Homo sapiens: one gene and its partner. The protein of the gene in region 1 interacts with the protein of each later gene in a biochemical or structural test. Each region holds a gene or a part of one and is shown on either strand. Other genes may lie near its edges.

Region 1 (7,022 bases):
AATTAGAGCCATGAGCACCATAAAGAAATTAGAAAAGGCAAAGAGACAATACTTAGATTGATTAGAAGGCACTGGGACAAGTACCTTAATGAAATGAAGCTGGCTGTACTAACACCTGGAGGAAAAACAGTCCAGGCAGAAGGAATAGCAAACACCAGAATGACTGGCTTGTTCAAGTAATATCAGGGCCAGTGTGGCTGTAATCAACAGACATTAAAAAAGACCATCAAGAGGTATACAGGGGTAAGTCTATGTAGAATATTAGAGACCATGAAAAGAGCTTCAATTTTATTCTCAATGAAATGGAAAGCACTAAACAGTTTTAAGCAAGGGAACAGTGACTTAATTTAGTATCACTTAAACTTTAAAATTAGCCTGGCTGCTGTGTGGAAAAAGAACTTGACTAAAGAGGAACAAGAACAGATGGAATGAAGGAGATCAACAATAGGCTACACAGATGATAAGGGTTGTTTATGGTGGCTTGGATTAGGGTGTTAATGGGGGAAATGATTAATAAAAGGTGAGATTTTGAAAATTTTTTGAAGGTAGATTATAGATTTGCTGATAAGACTGTAAAGGGGAAGTGGGAAAAGTAAGGAATCAAGGCTAATTTATAAATTTTGATAGAGCCATAAACTGAAATGAGAATAAAAAACTCACACAGAGTTTGTTTTTTAAAAAAGATACAAAGCTTAAAATGAAGATGCAAATACATTAAGGAAGTTATGTCTTTCTATTCCAAGTACTAAAATACATATCTGGCACATTGTAAATTTTCTCCCTTCATTCAAGTCCATGATTAGACCTACATGCATAATGGTACACACCATGTGAAGAATTATTTCAATTGTTACATTAAAAATATCAAAGATGGGCACTACTGTTACCAAATGAAATCTTACAGCTTAACAGCACTATAGCAAGTGGTTCCACATACTCACCATTTTATGGAGATCAGTGTCAGGATAGTTCAGGTAATTCAGAAATTAAGTAAGTTGGAAGTGTGCAATGCTTTAGAAGAGGCAATCACGAAATGATATGTGTCACTGAATCATCATGGGAATAAAAAGCAACACTAATTCAACAGGGACCCTTAAGTATCCACTGTTTTTCTGAGTTTATGATGGAAACAGATATTTTAACAGATGCTACTTAGATGTGAACTTTGTATATGCAGTTGTGTATAAGACATAAACCTATGTTCAAGTACTATCTACAGGACACACACACACATATATATGTACATACTGACACATAATGGTCAAGAAGGCTGTTCAGTATTCAATAATAAACCAGTGTTCAACGGTAGTCATATCTATTAGTTGGGATTACAGTAGCTTTTTTATCCTTTTTACTCATCTGTATTTTGCTATTTTTCTACTCTAAATTTGCATCATTGGCCCAAACAAGCAAATTAGTAAATGCATTTGAAATCAATTTTAAAACCATACTACACATAACCTAGGTATATGAGGCATAAGGACAAAATGTTTACAAGACAACAGCCATGCTCATAAGGGCAAAAATATCCAAGAATTTTGAAGTAGAAATGTCCACACACAGACACATAATATGTTCTAAGATGCAAGACTATATTTTTGAAATGCTGTATCAGAAAAAAAAGGGATGGTACTTTATTCCTTATAATTTAAAAACTATGTTGGCAAGAGATATACATTCTTAGTTAATGCCATTTTCCTTTTACCTGTTTTCTCTCTTTAGGATTGAGAAGTAAGTACCGGGGATCAAAAACTATCTTGTGCAACTCCTTCTCCCACGTTGAAAAAGCAGACACCTTTAAAATAAAAACGTATTGCCTCATAATTAAGTCTCCTCTAAAAATATAAAGGTCATAATTTTGCTTGAAATCTACAGGATATCTGTTTATAAAGGAGACATAAAACCATACTGAAGTTTCCATCACTAATAAATGACAAGCAGTGGGAGGCTAGCAATAGCAAATTTCCACACTAATTGGCTCTGAACATTCCTATATTATATAGAAATAACAGACACTTAATTACTCATTAAAATAACTACTACTGTGTGACATTTTAAAAATCAGTACATCAGAAAAAGCCTTGAAGATTTATATTTTGATTTCTCATGCTTGCTCCAATCTTGTGAACAATGTTGTGATTTAAAATTGAACAATTTTACTTATTCAAATGAATCTGTGAATATAACCAAATAGTTGAAATCCCTTCTCAATTAAATTGCAAATAATAATATCACAAAGTATCAGTTCTCCTTTAACAAAAGCCATTCTCAAGATATTAAAGGAAGAATAATCATATATACCTTACCTATCCCAAGCAGTCCGCCATTCTGTAATGTTAATACTCGTCTTATATTACTCACCACAATTTAATGACCCAATAAATGTTAAGTGTTATTTGTACTTAAAAGGACAGTAAAATGGCATTTAGTTAAATATGATAAGATTAGCCAAGAAAAAGGCTGTTGCAAAAAATGTACAGTAATTTTAAAAATCCCCTTATCCCCCCCCATAACATGAGCACTAACCTTAGATTTGACCTTTTAGCAAGACATATTTATATTACTTATACAAAACAGAAATATCTCCCCCAAAGATTGTTTTCTGACCCCTCTCTCTAGCAGCATGTCCTTGAACTGCTTCATTCGAGCCTCCAGAGGGACAATGGCCCTTTCTCGGGCAGCTTTAATTTCAGCTTCCATGGCAGCTTCTTTCTCTGAGTCAATGTCTTTATTATCGTCTCTCCTATAAAAAATAAAATATAAGACATCAACTGACAAAATATTAATTCTCAGATCTTATTAGAAATCTTAAAATCAAAGGAATTTTCAAGACTCACTACTGAGCAGCATATTTTTGGCAAAAACAAATTATATTGAGGGTTTCAAATGAACTCTAAGGGATAAATAACTTTCATAATAACAAAATTAAAATGGGCTTCTAATGATTTACAATGGCTACATTATTAGGAAAAAAATACACCTTTAATGGGCTGTCTCTCCCTGACACTGGTTAATAACATAAAAAGGGAGCAACCTTACTTAAAAAAAAAAAAGTTTAACACTGCAGTAAACCTCTATGTGTCAGAATCAAACAGCACAAAATATAATTTTTTTAGTTCTTGAAATATAGAAAAAACAGTATTTTCCAAAATGTTTTACATTATAAACACATAAAATATTTTGTAAAATCTAATAAAAATTGGTATTAAGTGGTATAATGTTTTAGTAATCTCAAACATTCATTTTAAAAATAAAACTAAAATATCTGCAATCTTGGCCAAGTGAATATGTAAGATATATACCTTACCTACCTGACTTTTTATTACTCACTTTCTGGGTGATAAGTTGAGATTTAAGTTGAAGGACAGGTCCCAGAGAGCAACATGGGCCCAGGAGTAGTTAGGTGGAATTAGAACTGTTCATCAATGACTAAACTACTTCTTGTTCCTCCAAAAATGCACCTCAGGTGTAAGGGCAACCCTGTTTCTGTGTGGTACTCAAGTGAAATTGTAAACATGGAATCACGGCACCTCTCAAATATATGCACTATGAAAAAGGCCCATTCACGTAAATAATCCAAAAAAGTATGTAATTCAATAATATCTGGGTGTATTTTAGCAGATCTTCCTTCTTAAATATGATCTGCTAAGTATATTTTAAAAATTGGCTCTTATTCCCTATACAAACTTAAGGGAATTAGGAAAACAGAACATGTGGAAATTCAAAAGCATGCTATACAGGAAACTGTAGGTAGCCCCAGAGATTTAAATGGAACTAAGGCTAACCCACAAATGCAAGTGAGAGGTACTTAGCAACTTAGGCAATGAATCAAAAGAAATAGAAGACATAGTCCGTGACCTGCAGGAACTTAGCGAGATAGTCTGTGACCTAAGATATGCACAAAACAAACAGGTAAAAGCAATTTGCCAAACAATATACCCTCTTATAATAATAATTTTAAAACTATTTAAATAGTTAGAGTTAAAAGACATCCAAGAAGTAACTAATAAAAACAAATAACCTTTATAGAACTATACTAAATGAAAATGTCACAATACAAACTATCACTATCTATCTCAATAAAGGAAATAAAAGAAAAACTAAGCCAGGAAAAACAGGCTTTTAGCTTTGTACCTAAATAGAGAAGCTCGGGCAATCCACATAAAGGACTTCTTTGACATTCTCCTGATAAAAGCAGTTAAAAACCTTACAGAGTTGTCTATAAGAACAAACAATTAAAAACAACCTAAAAGTTTAACATCGTAGGAACATCCAAAATTATGGTACATAAACAGAATGAATACAGTCATTTATAATAATTAACAAAACAAATGTCTTATTCTAGGTTTTTTTTTTTTAAAAAAAAAGCACAAAATCAGTTAATCACAACTAATAAAAATTACATTTGGTCAAGAACTAAAAAGTCAATTGCAAAAATGAGAATAGCTATGTTACGCTGATAAATTATGAGTGATTCTTTCATATCTTTTATGTTGTTGCCAATAAAGAAATTTTTTTTAAAAGAACTACCCTTTATAGGGGTTGTCCTACTGATTTCTTTGCCATAATTTGGCTGCATTCAATCTGTCCTTTTCAGATAAGGACTACAATTAACCAGTTCCTGTTAATGTCTTCAAACTTTCCTTTTTGCTGCTAAATAATGGTCCCATTCCCCATACATGCATACCCTCTACCCCATCCTTCCCCCCGCCATAACATTTACATTTTACCCAACTCTAGAGCACTGGCCAAGCTAATGCCTCTACTTCTTAGCAGTCTCTTTCTCGCAGAGCACTTCCTAAGCTTATGGGTTCTCTCCTCACCAAGGAGTTAATGACCAGACTCAAGGACTAGGTAAGTCGTAAGATAACCATATAAAGAGGGAGAAGTCTGTGTCTGTTTTTATGAGATCTCTGGAATGGTATCCATTGGGGTCTAAATGAGGGAGGAAACTAACTTTTCATAAAATTGAGACCTAATAAATTTCCAAAAAGAATTAATTCCAAAACTATCATTTGGAGTCATAATACATATATGAATACCCAAATCTTCTACAAATCTAGCAAAAGAAGGGACACATTTTCTACAATGAAAAACAAAGCTATTTATTATCAGGCCTAAGAGAGCAATCATGCCTCCTAACAACATTCACATTACCTGTCCCTTCCAATCACAAATTATTACCAAATCGACTTTTAAAAGATATAATCTACCTCAATCAAATCGTATGTATTACTTACTTCCGTTTTTTTGCTTTAACAGGCTCATCTTCATTAATTTCTTCCATTAATTCTTGTTCCTCTTTAACTATAAGACAAAATTTAATTAAAATATTTAGGAATGAATCCTTCTGCTAATCACTACCAGAACACTTGCTTTAATAGTATTAAAAAGAAGCTGCAATTTATGGTTAGTTCACTCACTTGCACTCATAGAGAATTGCCACTTTTGGATCGACAGCATTGTCGGAGTTGGGTGCCCTGGCAAAAACATTTCAAATATTGTTACAAAGTCATTTGCATATATTTCACAAACTTTTCTTTTTAAAAATTACTGTTTACATAATATATTCACCTCTTAATATTCATCCCTTTATAAAACATTAAACAAAGCATAATTCTACACTTCCTCTATTTATCCTCCCTTTACATTAAATTTAATTCATTTTGAAATGTTTCTTGCCCAAACCTTAAATTTACAAATATATAAAATAAAGCTTTCTTGATTCAGGATTTACAGTACCTTTTAACAATGCACGTTAATGTATTTATCAAATGAATGAATCAAATATTTAAAAACAAATTCACGAAAAACAAAAGAAAATCACATATTGTTTCAACATCATTCAATACCATAGTTATAAAGTATTATTATCATACCTATAAAACAAGTATTGCTGAAGGTGAGCCTAGTACCTTCAGCACTAGATAGGCAAAGCGGCACTGACTCAGAAATTACTTATAATTCAGCATATATATAATGCATGAAAATGTCTCAATGACTATAAATGATACACACTAGGATTTATTTCATTAGAAGCATTAAATAATTCATTTATCTTGCTTCTATACCACTTGCGGGCCACAGTTCTATAAAAACACAATCATATCAACACAAGGGCAAATTACCAATAAGAAATACACAACAAAAATTACGTACAAATATCTGTACTCAATATATTAGTATGCCCTCTGAATATGAGATAGATTAAAAGATAATCTCTTAGTAAGGTTTAGGTGTCTAGTCTCAGGAATATAAGGAGCTTACCATCTAATTCAAAAGATTGAGATTTTGTATTTTTAAAAAATTTGTAATGTATTATTTCAAGAAATATATTACTAGTCACAAAAGGTGCTAAAAGGCCCACCGAGGAGCATTTTAGTAGTATTGATAAGCACTAAGCAAGCAGCAACACTACCAACCATATCTTGGACTAACTGAAAATCTTGAGTAGGACAATAAATTAAAGACACACATATTTTACAAAGCACAATCTTATCCAAATTCTCTCCATATTTTTAATCTCTATTATTTCATTCAAACTAGGATAGCAGTCTATTTTTTTCGAATGCTTCTTATATTCTTTGAAAAATAAAGGGTTTCTAAATGCCTTCCACATTTTCTATCAAAATATGAAAAGAATGTTAAAATCAGTGGATAAATTCCTAATTTAAAACTTACTTAGTTTCTTCAATTCCTCCATTCCTTTTTTATGAGGGGGCTCCTGAATAATTTTGTCAACATCTGCCCTGCCAATCAGATCATCAGGTCGGTCCCACATAGAAAGACGAGTGGTGGGATTATAAAAGAAGACCCGCTCATCACCAGTCCAAACGACACACCTAAGAATTGATGCAAAATATCATTCTCTTATGTTACAGAACATATTTTACAGCTAGGACTTCTTTCAGCCTGTTACAAGTAGGGAGATGAGGGTACTGAAGAACGACATGTTCTTATTACCAATAGTTATTTACAGAGAACCAAACATGGTTTTTACAAGATAACTGAATGACTCAAGC
Region 2 (7,344 bases), on another chromosome or scaffold:
CCGCTGGCTGGTGTTCCCACCATCACAGCAGGCCCGTGGGGCTGGGCAGCCATCGCTCCTCTGCTGTTGCTAAGGCAGCAGCCGGAAACCCTGGCTCAACCTGCTCTTTCTCTCCACCCCCATTTTAAGCAGGGGGCACCCCTTTCTTTCACAGCTTTCTTGGAAAGGTAGCCCCCCACCACCCACCCTTGCATGGGAGAAGGGCTCCCTGCACCTCCTGTCTGGCTGTAAGTGGGGACACCCCTCACCCACAAGAGAGGTCCTACAGCCAGGAGAGGAAGGAGAGTTTGGGGTATCAGGATCCTATGCCCCACCAGGGACAAAAGGGGAAGGAAGAGGTTCCCTGGGGCCGCTGGACTACATCCCTGAGGGCAGGACTGTGCTTCTCCCATTGAGACTGGGGACCACTGATGGCGGTGGGCCCCTCCCCTCAGCAATCTAAGGTTCTTCTCCTCTTAGACACTGACCGAGGACAGGACTCAGCTCTGGCCATGGTGGTTCGGGTGGGGGTTCACATAGCGACCAACTCTGCGATACACACTGCCAGACCTGAGGGTTGAACCAACTCTTTAGCCCTGGGCAGCCTCAGGCAGAGGTCAAGGTTGTCACCCTGGGGCAAGCCTCATGCCCCTGCTGGTGGGGAATGAGAGGAACCAGGGTCTTAGCCAAGTGTCCTTAGATTGGGTTTAACCTGCCCACAACAGGATATAAGACAGGCTGAGCCACCCCGGGAAGAAGGTATAAACACACTGGGGTTCCTGGGCACCTGGTAGGGGGTAAGCCCTGGTGGGTGCTGCTACCCTAAATTTCTGCTAGGCACCTCCACTTTCTCCACCAGCACACCCTCTCTGACCCACCTGTGGGTGTCCCCCCTCCACATCCTGGTACTCAGGGACTCCCAGTGGCATTTAGTGTCAGACTCAGCCAATCACAGCCACAAATCCAAGCAGGGCAAACAAGTCCTACACACACATCAGAACCTCACCATTTGACTTGTGGATTTTCCCCTGGTCTGAATTATTCACAGGGCTCCTCCCCATCAGCGTGCTAAACAGAAGATTGGGGTCAGGACCTCACCCCAAGAGCCCACACCCGCGACCATAGACACACACTTGGCGGAAAGACAGACCCATGTCCCTCCAACCAGGTTGGCAGGGGTCCAAGGACCCACCACCAATGCAGGCTCTCCAGATGGCCCCCAGAGACTGTGTCTCCTCATTCTCCCCCCTCCCCCATCTGCTCAGCTCAGCTCAGCTTTGTGAAGTCCTATGCTTGGGGAGCGGGGAGCAGGGCAGGTGGAGAGATGGAGAAGTCAGGGGCCAGCCTGGTGTGAGGCGTCCCTCAGTGTCCCTGCCCTCCTCTAATCAAGCAAGGTGTCTTCACAAGGATGGATCCCTCGCCACCCCATAGCTCCTCCAAACTCCCCCCAGCCTTCTCTTGGGAGAGGACAGAAGCCAACATTTTCAGGAACTGTTAGGAGGTGACCCTCTGGAGCCATGCTGAGGATCTAGCACGTATGGCCTAATGACCAGCCAGGCGAGGGGAAATGATGTCAAGGAGATGGAGGGCCACCAACTGAGCCAGAACCCTCTGCGGCCTGTGTCTCCGTTGAGCCCCCACCCTCAGACCTGCAGGGACTGGGAAATGCATCTGGGAGAAGGCACAGCCTCATTTTGCCTGTCACCCAGCGTCCAGCAAGGGAAGGCTGACAGCAGGCAGGCCACCAGGCAATTAGTTAGAGGAGGGAGCCAGGGCCAGGGCGTCGGGGGTGGGGAGAGTGAGAGTGAGCAGCTCTTCCTCTCCCTACTTCTGCCTTATGCAGGGTCTTGGAGACCCCTGAGTCTGCTCTGGAGCCCCCACCCCACTGAACATGTTGACTGTTTCCAGGCTCGGCCTGAGCTGCTGGTTCCCTCCCAGAGACCTATTCCCCAGCGACCCCGCTCCAATTCCCCAGGTAGGCACAGAGGGGGGTGGTTCCAGATTTTGCTCCACCCCTAGCCTGGGCGACCCACCCGTCCTGACCCCACCCTCCCTCATCTTACTCCCTTCAGTGGCTTGGAAAGGATGCCCCAAGATAAAGACCCACAGGCACCCTGGCTCTGACATATGGCGGGGTAGAAACACAGATACCTCCTGGCCATGATCCGACAACCCCATTCCCCGCAGCCCAGGCGCCCAACAAATCAGGACCCAACACCTCCAGCAGGTCTCCCGCTCCCGGGAGGTTGTAACCCTTTCATCTTTGACTCCAGACACAGAAAGGCAGATGCCCCAGACCCGCGCCCGGTGGCTGGGCCTGCGTGCAGTGGGGAAGGGGGCGACCCGGGACCCCTGTGCGTGCCCCGCTCCCAACTTCTTCACAGGACATACTTGTTTAGACCTTAAGACCCAGCTGGGGTGGAGGCGTCTTAGGGAGGGAGACCGGGCGATAACTGAAGAAAGTTTTGGGGGGAGAGTGCTAAGTCACTCTGAAAAAAAGGCCACTGTCGCTCCCACCTCCTGGAGGGGGCAGCTGCCGGACCGGGGATCTCCAAGCGGCACCTGAGTCCCCGGGGGCGGGGACGCGCGCCCAGCCCCTGCCGCGCCCCTGCCGCCCCCCGCCCGCGCCCGACCCGCCTCCGGGTCGCACTCACCAGGGCGCGGTTGAACCTCTCCTCCAGCTCTCCGGCCGCGGGCATCGGCTGCTTGGGAGGCGCGGGCTGCTTGGGGGGCGGCGCGGCGGGGCCCGCGGGCTGCTCGGCGCTGCCGGCCGCGTTGCCCATGGTGGTCCCCACCCAGCCGGCCAGGCGCCTCCAGCCTCGGAAATCCAGCTTTCCGGGGGACGGGGACGAGGCTCCCGGCCCGGGCGGGGGCGAGGGGGCAGCGGCTGGCGGTGGCGGCGGGGGTCTCGGCAGCGGGGGGCGCTCGGCTCAGCGGCGCGCAGGGGCCGGAGCGCGGCGTCCCATCGGGGCGGCCCCGTCCGTGGGACCGGGCGGCGAGCTGCAGGGTTGGGGGAGGAAGTCAGGCTGCAGGCCGCCGGGGCCAGAGGGCTGGGCCGGGGGCAGGAAGCTGCGGCGCTGGCTCCCCCCTCGGCGATTTTCGAACTTCTGCTGTCGCTCCCCGTGCGCGCAAACCGCAGTTCGCCGCCGCCGCCGCCGGGCACCCAGCCCCAGGGGGGCGGGCTGGAGGGAGGGGGCGGGCGCTGGCCGGGGGACCCCCGCAACCATGGCGGGCGGGGAGTGGGCTGCCGAGCCGCTTCACCTGCCGCAGAGGGGGCGGCCGGCGCCGCTTCACCTGCCGGAGCGGGAGGCCACCGAGGCGAGGCCGAGGCGGCGGCGCGCTCGGCGGCGCCTCCGGGTCCTAGAACCGCATCCTCCCGCTCGCCTCGGGCGAGGGATTGGCCGGGTCTGGGTGAAGGGGATCACGGCCTGGGGATTGGAGGGGCACATCTTCTCCGCACCGAGGATCTCAGCGACTGCGAGCACGGCTCGGAGACCCACGGTGGTGCAGCGTTGGGGCGCCAGGGCTGCGTTCCCGTCTCGCGTCCCGGACTGAGAAGGTGGGAACCCCCTTCCAGGCCCCCCACCTTTTATTTCTCTCCTCCCCTGCTTAGCCCAGAGACGAGCTGAGGACGAGGGGGAGCCATCTCCAAACAGGAACTCCTAAACAGGGTGGGGGGCGCGGACGCAGGCCAGTGGAGACCCCCGCCACCTGTCCCACCTCGACCAACCGTGCGCCTGTGCAGGGCACCCCTACAGGTTTTAGAATGGGGGCACCTATGGAATATGGCAGGCTGCGAGAAGCTGGGCCCGCCAAGGTGGTCCCAAGGAGGAGTGGGGGGTTGCGGAAAGGAGGATGAGAGCCAGCCACAAGGCTGGAAAAGGAGTGGGCACCGCAGAGGAGGGAAAAAGAATCTTGACACTGTCACCGCCAGGGATCTAGGGGGGCCTCTTACCTTGGAGAATAACAATCTCTGATGTCTGCTAATTACAGAAATACTTTCAGAGCTCTTTCATTCATCCTGACAATGGCCAGAGAAGGTAGGTATTGGTAGCCTTATTTTAGAGATGGGGAAACTGAGGCTGAGAGTAGGTAAGTAAGCTGTCCAAGGGCACTCAGCTAACAAAGGACAGAAGCAAGCCTCCTCACTGTCTACCTCCAAAACCTACACTGGCTTGGAGTTGCTGTCCTGGCCCTCCACTGCCCATCTCATGTAGGACGGGAGAGTATGGGGGGCTGGGGTCCCATCTATAGCCTGAATTTGAGACTTTCAGTTGCTCCTCTCATTCCCCATTTAATTTGTGGGGATCCCCAACTGACCCCTCCCTACACTTCCAGGGCACTGAGGAGGGAGGGCCCGCTGAAGGAGCCCCGAATTATCTCTAGGCCAGGTCAGGAGCCATTAGTGTCCCCTCCCCTGACAGCATCCTCCTCCTTCTGCCCTCACATTCAGAGCCACTGACAAGACTTTAAGCAAGAGACGGAGAGTTAACATCTAATCTGGAGGAAGACCCTGGAAGGAGCCAGCCCCTTCCCCCAGGCTGACCTGGTTTAAGCCTTTCTTCTGCCAAGGTCACCAGCACCCCAGATGGGTGAGAGATGTGATCACTGGTTTCGTGGCCTGACCAAGGACCTCCAAGGTGAGTCAAAGCAGAATTCTCCTTGGGCATGCAGGGAAAATGATCCATTCCCTGCACACTGCCATATTCTCCTTCTCAGACAGACCAGAGCCTTGCCCTTGGGTCCTTGCCCTTGAGATTAGCTAGGACCTCCTCCTCTTCTTCTCCTTCTTTCTTCTTCTTCTTGTCTCTATAAGATAACTGTCGTGGAAGACTTTTTTTTTTCTTTTAAGATGGAGTCTCTCGCTGTTGCCCAGGCTGGAGTGCAGTGGCTCGGTCTCAGCTCACTGCAACCTCCACCTCCCAGGTCCAAGCAATTATCCAGTCTCAGCCTCCTCAGTAGCTGGGACCACAGGTGCGTGCCACCACACCCAGCTCATTTTTGTATTTTTAGTAGAGACGGGGTTTTGCTATGTTGACCAAGCTGGTCTCGAACTCCTGACCTCAAGTGATCCGCCTGCCTCGGCCTCCCAAAGTGCTGGGATTACAGGCATGAGGCACCCCGTCCAGCCTGGAAGACTTTTTTTTTTAATGAATAAAAACACATTTTTTTAAAGAATGGATTCCCTGATTCCTCAATGGCTGTCTCTTTCAATTGAACAATAAACCTTTACTTAGCATCAGCTACATGCCCATCACTGTGCTTGGTCCTGCAGATTCTGTGGCAGATGAGAAATGCCTTGGTCCTTGGGCTGCTTGCAGCCTAGCGAGGGACAGACTTTTAACCTCTCTAGGAGAGTGGCTGCTTCAAGTCATCCTATGGGACCAGCTGTTCATGCTTCCTCTTGCCCAGAACTACTTCTGTGAGAGGAAAAGAGAAGGGTAGGAGCGTGCCCTGCAGCTGGAAACCCAAGCCAGGCGGGGAGCCACGAATGCAGTAGTTATCAGACTGTATCTTCAATCCTGGGGGCTTCTCAAGCCATTGCCAGCCACTCTTCACCCAAGGCCTGGTGGAATAAAGCTGGGCTAAGTAACACCTCTTCTGTGGAAAATTATTGTTTCTGCAAGCCTATATTCATTCTCCCTCTCTCTCATGCTGATCAGAACTGTGAGTTACAAAAAAAATGAGAAGATGGAATCAATTATTACGTAGTAAATTTCATTTGCTTGGCAGGAGGTATCTTTCCCATCTTGGCCCACAGAGGAGGAAATCCTAGAAGGGATGACTGAAGCTTGGGACTAACACATTGGTGGATCTGTGCTACCCCCTGCTGGCCGTAGACGGTATGACAGCCAAGATAGGGCAAGGCTTCGAGGGGCGATGGATGGATTCACCGCAGCGGCGACATTTCTGGACTGTTGTCACCTTCAGTGCAGTCACTGGGAATATTCAGAACCCAGGTGATTGATAAGGTTTTCCCAGGGATCTCTTCTCTCCCCTTCACCATTACTCAGTAGGAGCTTCCTTAAAAACGGAAAACGAGAGGCCGGGCGCGGTGGCTCACGCCTGTAATCCCAGCACTTTGGGAGGCGGAGGCGGGCGGATCACGAGGTCAGGAGATCGAGACCATCCTGGCTAACACAACCCCGTCTCTACTTAAAATACAAAAAATTAGCCGGGCGTGGTGGCACGCGCCTGTAGTTCCAGCTACTCAGGAGGCTGAGGCAGGAGAATCGCTTGAACCCGGGAGGCAGAGGAGGTTGCAGTGAGCTGAGATGGCGCCACTGCACTCCAGCCTGGCCGACTGAGACTCCATCTCAAAAAAAAAAAAAAAAAAAGGAAAAAGGGGCCGGGCGCGGTGGCTCACGTCTATAATCCTAGCACTTTGGGAGACCAAGGCGGGCAGATCACGAGGTCAGGAATTTGAGACTAGTGTGGCCAACATGGTGAAACCCCATCTCTACTAAAAATACAAAAAATTAGCCGGGTGTGGTGGCGCATGCCTGTAATCCTAGCTACTCGGGAGGCCGAGGCAGGAGAATCGCTTGAACCCAGGAGGCCGAGGTTGCAGTGAGCCGAGATCACGCCATTGCACTCCAGCCTGGGCGACAGAGCAAGACTCCGTCTTGAGGGAAAAAAAAAAAAAAAAGAAAAAGGGGCCAGGCACCTGTAATCCCAGCACTTTGGGAGGCTGAGGAGGGAAGATCGCTAAAACCCAGGAGTTCAAGACCAGCCTGGGCAACATGGTGAGACCCCATCTCTACAAAAAATGCAAAAAAAAAAAAAACAAAAACAAAAAAAAAAACAGCTGGGCATGATGGTGCGCACCTGTAGTCCCAGCTACTCGGGAGGCTGAGGTGGGAGGATTATTTGAGCCTGAGAGGTCAAGGCTGCAGTGAGCCAAGATCGCATCACTGCACTCTAGCCTGGGTAACAGAGCAAGACCCTGCCTCAAAAAAAAAAAAAAAAAAGGAAAAAGGTTATTACACAGTTCAAAAGAGAAACAAAGTGCAAAAGCATGTGCAAAGAAAGTAAAGTCCCTCCTGGCCAAGTGCGATGGCTCAAGCCTGTAATCTCAACACCCTGGGAGGCTGAAGTGGGTAGATCATTTGAGGTCTGGAGTTTGAGACCAGCCTGGCCAACATGGTGAAACCCCGTCTCTACTAAAAATATAAAAATTAGCTTGGCGTAGTGGCGGGTGCCTGTAATCCCAGGTACTCGGGAGGCTGAGGCAGGAGAATCACTTGAACTTGGGAGGCGGAGGGTGCCGCGAGCCAAGATCACGCCAGTGCACTCTAGCCTGGGCAACAGAGCAAGACTCCATCTCGAAGGAAGGAAGGAAGGAAGGAAGGAAGGAAGGAAGGA

What was found.
Region 2: the proteins of TCERG1 (region 1) and FMNL1 form a complex in vitro, tested with the Homo sapiens proteins (one study listed by BioGRID).

What each region holds. Positions count from the first base shown.
Region 1 is NC_000005.10:146,478,313-146,485,334, reverse strand, and holds part of TCERG1 (transcription elongation regulator 1), read right to left. Parts: intron 6,843-7,022; coding exon 6,682-6,842; intron 5,481-6,681; coding exon 5,424-5,480; intron 5,308-5,423; coding exon 5,241-5,307; exon of another isoform or gene 4,186-5,240; coding exon 4,135-4,185; exon of another isoform or gene 3,889-4,134; coding exon of another isoform or gene 3,765-3,888; exon of another isoform or gene 2,744-3,764; coding exon 2,608-2,743; exon of another isoform or gene 1,796-2,607; coding exon 1,706-1,795; intron 198-1,705; exon of another isoform or gene 85-197; intron 1-84. UniProt on the Homo sapiens protein: Transcription factor that binds RNA polymerase II and inhibits the elongation of transcripts from target promoters. Regulates transcription elongation in a TATA box-dependent manner.
Region 2 is NC_000017.11:45,217,543-45,224,886, reverse strand, and holds the start of FMNL1 (formin-like protein 1), read right to left. Parts: upstream 3,003-7,344; 5' UTR 2,763-3,002; coding exon 2,634-2,762; intron 1-2,633. UniProt on the Homo sapiens protein: May play a role in the control of cell motility and survival of macrophages. Plays a role in the regulation of cell morphology and cytoskeletal organization. Required in the cortical actin filament dynamics and cell shape.